Linked DNA regions of Homo sapiens. The main gene of each other region encodes a partner of the protein of the gene in region 2 in a complex. Each region holds a gene or a part of one and is shown on either strand. Other genes may lie near its edges.

Region 1 (2,929 bases), on a different chromosome or scaffold from region 2:
ACTTTGGGAGGCCGAGGCTGGTGGATCACGAGGTCAGGAGATTGAGATCATCCTGGCTAACACGGTGAAACCCCGTCTCTACTAAAAATACAAAAAATTAGCCGGGCGTGGTGGCAGGCGCCTGTAGTCCCAGCTACTCAGGAGGCTGTGGCAGGAGAATGGCGTGAACCTGGAGGCGGAGCTGGCACTGAGCCAAGATTGCGCCACTGCACTCCAGCCTGGGTGACGGAGGGAGACCCGTCTCAAAAAAAAAAAAAAAGTTCCTGCATTAGGCAGATGGCTGAACTAGATATTTCCTCCAAGGCCTCTTCCAACTCTGAGATCTCTGAGATCCCATTATTCTATAGTTCTCTGACCTGATTATAGACAGCCAGGGCATGTGTTCCCAAGACAGCGTCTCCCTAACTCTGGTGCCCCCTCCAGCCTGTAGCAGCCATGATGGAGGAGGAGCCAGAGTCGGCCAGACCAGAGGAAGGCAAACCCCAGGATGGTGAGTGTTACCCACCTCCATCCAGAGATGGAGTAGGATCAGAGGCTCAGCTGTGGAACAGAGGGTGGAGGAGCAAAGGGCAGGCCAGCTTTGGATAGACGAGGCCCTTCCACAAAAGGGTAAGAGAATAAGAATTGCCCTCCAGGAGACAGACAATTTGTTGGTGTTTCCTATCCCAGGAAACCCTGAAGGGGATAAGAAGGCTGAGAAGAAGACACCTGATGACAAGGTAAGAATCCTTCCTCCCTGCAAGGAACCCAGTTCTCTCCCCAACCCAGCTCTGACACCACTACTCATGGCCCTGGCAGAAGCTCACTCTTTAACTCCTAGGCTTCCCATCACTTCTGACCCACACTCTCCATCAACTTGCACACCCACCCACGACCAAAACACTTCTCTCAGTTCAGGGACCTAGAAGAGAGTTGGAGTGTAGAGTGTGTGGTGAATGTCCCTGCCTTGGAATCCTGCCCCTCAGTGTGGGGTAGAGGAGCCCTAAGACTCATCATTCCCTTGCACCCCCAGCACAAGCAGCCTGGCTTCCAGCAGTCTCATTACTTTGTGGCTCTCTATCGGTTCAAAGCCCTGGAGAAGGACGATCTGGATTTCCCGTGAGAGGCCTTGGGGCAGGGGGCTGGTACTGCGGAGTGAAGAGGAAAGAGCTGGGTTCCCCCAAGGGAAAGGAAAAGGGGGGACTCAGGGCTTGGAGCCTATTGATGCTGGACCCGGGGCACAGCAGGGGACCTGCTATGTGAGTGAGGCCCCTCCCTTCCCCTCCCAGGCCAGGAGAGAAGATCACAGTCATTGATGACTCCAATGAAGAATGGTGGCGGGTGAGAGAAATGGCTAGGGCTAGGGTGGAGTGTGGGTTGAGTCCAGAACCCGACATTGAGAGATGGACTCTCCCTACTATCTTCCCTAGGGGAAAATCGGGGAGAAGGTCGGATTTTTCCCTCCAAACTTCATCATTCGGGTCCGGGCTGGAGAACGTGTGCACCGCGTGACGAGATCCTTCGTGGGGAACCGCGAGATAGGGCAGATCACTCTCAAGAAGGACCAGGTAGGCTGTTGCCCCAACCCAATCCCAGGCCTGAATGCTCCCTAGCCCACCACACTCCTTGGAGAGCTTAACCATTAATAAGACTAGGGTGAGCCCCTGTAAACCCCGGCTCCCCTGCTGTCCTCTCCTACCTTTTCCTTTGATTCCTCTCCTACTTCTGATCCTTTAATCTTCTAGATCGTGGTGCAGAAAGGAGACGAAGCGGGCGGCTACGTCAAGGTCTACACCGGCCGCAAGGTGGGGCTGTTTCCCACCGACTTTCTAGAGGAAATTTAGGCGTGCGGGCGCCTGCAAGCGGGAGACACCCACACCCCATTCTGGGCGGGCCCAGTGGAGTTTGGGGAGGGGGGCGAAAGCAACGGGACTGCTGGGAGAGGAGGGGTAGGAAGGCCCGCCTGAGCGCGACGGGGCTTCCGGGAAGGGACTGGTTCTCGCCCCCTTCCCCAGCCTGGGGCCTCGGATACCTGCTGCCCAGAGCAGCCCGGACCCGAAACCTTTCAGGCCCCGCTTGCAAGAGCTGGAAAAAAACGCGTATCTACTAGGAGGAGCCAGGGACTGGGGCGGGGGGCGGGGGCGAGGGAGGGCGAACTGTCGAATGTTGCGAATTTATTAAACTTTTGACAAAACTTAGAAAAGTTGTTATTTAACTGGGGTTGAGGAGAGGGCCTGCGGAGGGGTGGAGAATCCTCCCTAGCTGTCCCGCCTCGTTACCATCGGGTAACCTGAGACCCATCTGGGCTGAGGTTGGCGGGAGGTGGGAAGTGCGCCCGCCAGGTGAGGCCTCTGTAGTCAGTAAAGAAAGGGGAGCGCAGGGCTGGAGTCGCCGCCCCCGCGCCCCAGCGGTTGGGAGCAGGATCTTGTAGTAGGGTAAGTCCCCCCTTGCTCTTGGCGATTTAGCCGCAGGCAGCCCCTTGCATTTCGGAATCTGGCTTGGCGCCGAGCTAGGCCGCCAGGGGGCGATGCAAGATCTCGGTTGGAGAGCGAGGGATGGGGAGGGGGTGGAGGGTGGGTAAGGGGAGACAACCAGAGACACCAAGCCCGAGACCCTGGGCCTGGGAGGGGGTGGGGTGCGTGCCGTCTCCATGGCAACACTTCCTCAAGTCCTCCGAGAACCGAGCTAGCTAGGCCGGGGGCCTAACCCCACCCGCGCGGCCCCTGCCCTAACCCTTTCCGACAGGTACCGAGTGAGAACGGAGGGCAGACAGCTAACCGGCTCTCGCGGAGACACCCCTGCGGAGCACCGTATGCAAATGTTATTATTTGCATATGCAAATATGCAAATACGCCGGCCCTGGTCAGGGCGGCAGGTGGCGAGGAGCAGGAAGGTGTGGGGAAGGGAGCAGAAGGAGACGAGGAGTTTGGGGACCTGAGAGCGGACCCAG
Region 2 (3,814 bases):
AGAGAAAGCACTTTCTACTTCCCACACTTTCTCCTCCTTCTGTGGTAGCTATCTCCTGTTTGCAGAATTACCGTACTATTTTTATGCTTGAATTACCTCCTTAATAAACCATAAGTGCCTGGTGACAAGGCCTGTGCGCAGTTCACTTCTGTATTCCATGTAGCACCTCAGCACACAGTGCACAAGAAATGTCTACTGGGGGGAATCCTGGCTATCCTGCCCTACTCATCCTGCCCTACCCAAGGCCCAGGTCCCAGTCTGATCAGACATTTTTCTCCTGGGGAGCCCTTACCTGCATGCCGAGGCAGATGGTGTTGAGCATGATGAGGGCAAACATCAGGTATTCAAAGTAGGAGGAGGTGACAATGTACCACACCTGGTACTGGTATGGGTTTTTGGGAATGTAGCACCTCAGTGGGCGGGCCTTCAGGGCATACTGTACACATTGGCGCTGTGACACATACAACAGGACAGGTCAGCACCAAGAGGCCCCTCCCTCCCTCTCCACACCCACATCCATGGGATTGACGGGCAAGTCAGGAGCAGCTGTGGCCAGGGGCTGTGGCTGAGGACTGTGAACTGTTTAGGGGAATAATCCTGTTGGGCTTTGGGTTCCCCTTGAGTTATCACAGCCCATTCCCATGGGTGCTATAGACTAGACTGTGGGTCTGAAGGGCTTCCTTTCTCTGGGCATCATGAGGTTCCACAAGAAGACCCACTCTACCAACTTGTATTGCTTCAGTTTGGAGATAGGGTAGGGTGCATGGAGGCTAGGGCTTGGCATCAAATGCAGGTTCTGGGGTCACCCTTAGGCCTCTCTTCCCTGGCTGAACCTAGGGCTTGGGCCAGCAGGAGGCCTGCTGGAGCTCTGCCCTCCACCTCTGGCAGGCAGCCCAGGCACCTGGTTCTTGTCCAGCTCACAGTTCTTGTACTCAGTCTCTCCCTGCTCCTGGAAGGTGACAATGACGAAGCCCACAAAGATGTTCATCATGAAGAAGGCAATGAGGATGATGTAGATGATGAAGAAGATGGCCATCTCCACACGGTTGTTGTAGATGGGACCCACGTCCTCCGCATTGGAGTCTATGGCCTTGTACAGCAGCCTGGGGGTGGGCAGAGAAGAGAGGACAGACTGGGTGGGGTGACAAGGCAGAGAGTCAGGCTGGGAAGGATGGGCTTTATCCCACTGGCTGTGGAGAGCCAAGAGAGCCTTCTCAACAATCAAGTTACGGGACAGGAGTTAGGTCGGCGCCAGGAAAGACCAGACCCAATCCTGGAATGGCCCTGCCTTTCAAGAGGTTGCCCCATCTATCCCTAATCAATCAGTATTAACAATCTGCCCTGTGGGCAGAGAGGCATACACCTATGGGGGACTGCGTGCATTTTGTCAGAGACCCCTGGTCAGGCCTACTTTGGAGTGACCAGTCAACATACCATCAAACCATCAGAGAGTTGGTGGGTTTGTTGGACGCCTGCCACAGGTAGCAGTAGCACCGTGGGGGCTGCAGAAGGGCAGGCTGGCTGCCTGGTCCTACCTGACCATGTCCATGAGGGACCTAGGCCCCAGCCATCACTCACTGAGGCCATCCCTCGAAGGTGGAGACCGTGAAGAGGGACATCATGGCTGAGAGCACATTGTCGAAGTGGAAGTCGCTGTGTACCCACTCGCGGTGACGCAGCTCTATCTGCATGGGGTCCCCGTCCTTGTACACGTAGTAGTAGCCCCTGTGGCAGGGAGGCCCAGTCACTCCACAGGGCATGGCTGGGCTGCCTTGCCCCACCCACATCCTCTGGGCCCTGGGTGGGGAGTGTGAAGGAGAAATGAAGTTCCAGATCTGGGACCCAAGGGGACACCGCTGGGCGAGTCCGAGGAAAGGGGCCTCTGTGAGTGTCCCTCCTAAGCCTAAAGGCTGAGCTTCCCCAGTTTCCAGCTTGAAGGGCCGTCATCCACCAACACACAGTCCCCTGCCCTGTGATCGTCCTGCCACACTCCCTGCCCCGTGACCGTAACCCTCCCACAGTGCTCCCTGCCCCGTGACTGTCCCACCATGCTCCCTGCCCCGTGACCGTCCCACTGTGCTCCCTGCCCCATGTACCTGCACTCCTCCTCTGTCATCTTGGACAAGTCGGTGCACCTGAAGAACTTCCCCTGCAGCCAGGAAGAGGGAGGGAGGGAGGGAGGCATGTTGTCATGGAAACAGGATAGAAAAGTGGGCTCTGGGAGTGAACAGTGGAAGGGGGGAGGGAAGGCAGGCATCTGAAAAAAGGAGCCCAAGCCCATCTCTTCCTCTCAGAGGCGTGAACTCGCCCTTGGGGCAGGGCCCCAGAGCAGCCTCCTTTCTTCACCATCGTTCATTCCCACAGCTCCCCCAGGGCTTCCCCACCCAGCCTAGATGCTGCCAAGACCGAGAAGGCAGTGCCTCAGAGGGGCATTTACTGAGTGCCCCCTGATGGGCTGAGGGGATGGACATGAGTGCAGCTTGGCCCCTGCCCCTCCCTCGGGGAGCTGAGCCTCTGAGCCCCTTACCTCCCGCACTGCTGCAGGAGGCCTTCTGTGGTCTCCCATTATGGAACAAGGAGGAGGGGCTGCCCACCTCCCACCTCCATCCTCCTGCCAGTGGGGCGGGAGCAGCAGAGTTGGAGCCCAGCTGGGCTCTGATGACTCAACTTGTCTCAGAGTCAAGCGGGGTCCCATGTCCCAGCCCAAGGCCCAGGTAGGGGGGCTCTGTGCTCCTCTGCACTGACTTTGGCCAGAGCAGTTAATCCTTTTTTTTTTTTTTCAAGGCTTTGCAGATTATTTATTATAGAATTTTTTTTAAATTATACTTTAAGTTTTAGGGTACATGTGCACATTGTGGCAGTTACTCCTTTTATCTGTGTCTCAGATTGGGTCCCTGAGCAACATGTTTGAAGGAAAGTAGTGGATGGCTAGGTCTTTTTTTTTTTTGTTTGCTCACTCTGTCGCTTAGGCAAGAGTACAGTGGTGTGATCTCGGCTCACTGCAATCTCCGCCTCCCCGGTTCAAGCAACTCTCTGGCCTCAGCCTCCTGAGTACCTAGGATTACAGGTATGTGCCATCATGCCCAGCTAATTTTTGTATTTTTAGTGAGAAGGGGTTTCACCATGTTGGTCAGGCTGGTTTTGAACTCCCAACCTCAAGTGATCCGCCCGCCTCGGCTTCCCAAATTGCCGGGATTACAGGCATGAGCCACCGCGTCCAGCAGGATGGCTAGGTCTTAAAGAGGCTAAATCAGGCTTGAGATCCACGGATTCTGGTGCAGTTCCTTCAAAGACCCAGATAGGGAAACTGCCTCGGCCAAGGACACAGCACTAGTTGAAGACACAGCTGGCCCTTGCCCCCCGCTGCCCCTGCCACACAGATCTGTGCTGTTCCTATCACATGCCCTTTTTATGGTTGCTGGAGCAGAAGGTGAAGGTGAGGCGGGTGGTACTGGGGGTAAGCAGAGAGTGGATAGAGCTGCCACTGGGCAGGGTCTGGGCACTTAACACCAAATGCCCAGTTTACTATGGAAAGCAAAGCTTGACTCTGCTATAATGTGGAATGCACGTGGTGTTTCCACAGAGTCAAAAGCGACATCAAATGCCAACTGGAACTGTTATGCTTCTAGAACCTCCTGGAAGGCAGGAGCTGGGGGTCTTTTAATGAGAGACAAAAGCATGGCGAGAGTTGGGTGTTGACAAGCAATTGCTCTTGCTTGTCTGGAAGGGACGTGGAAGCCAAAGGGAGGGCAGCGGCTCATTCATTCCTTCAGGGAGCGTGTCTGGTGGGCCTCCTCTGCACCAGGCCCTGGGC

The links.
Region 1: CACNA1S (region 2) and STAC3 share a complex: the UniProt entries of both Homo sapiens proteins name them as parts of the calcium channel complex.

Annotation. Positions count from the first base shown.
Region 1 is NC_000012.12:57,242,706-57,245,634, reverse strand, and holds the end of STAC3 (SH3 and cysteine-rich domain-containing protein 3), read left to right. Parts: intron 1-423; coding exon 424-490; intron 491-669; coding exon 670-719; intron 720-1,012; coding exon 1,013-1,098; intron 1,099-1,268; coding exon 1,269-1,320; intron 1,321-1,409; coding exon 1,410-1,547; intron 1,548-1,724; coding exon 1,725-1,823; 3' UTR 1,824-2,177; downstream 2,178-2,929. UniProt on the Homo sapiens protein: Required for normal excitation-contraction coupling in skeletal muscle and for normal muscle contraction in response to membrane depolarization. Required for normal Ca(2+) release from the sarcplasmic reticulum, which ultimately leads to muscle contraction.
Region 2 is NC_000001.11:201,060,366-201,064,179, forward strand, and holds part of CACNA1S (voltage-dependent L-type calcium channel subunit alpha-1S), read right to left. Parts: intron 2,150-3,814; coding exon 2,097-2,149; intron 1,726-2,096; coding exon 1,579-1,725; intron 1,104-1,578; coding exon 902-1,103; intron 452-901; coding exon 293-451; intron 1-292. UniProt on the Homo sapiens protein: Pore-forming, alpha-1S subunit of the voltage-gated calcium channel that gives rise to L-type calcium currents in skeletal muscle.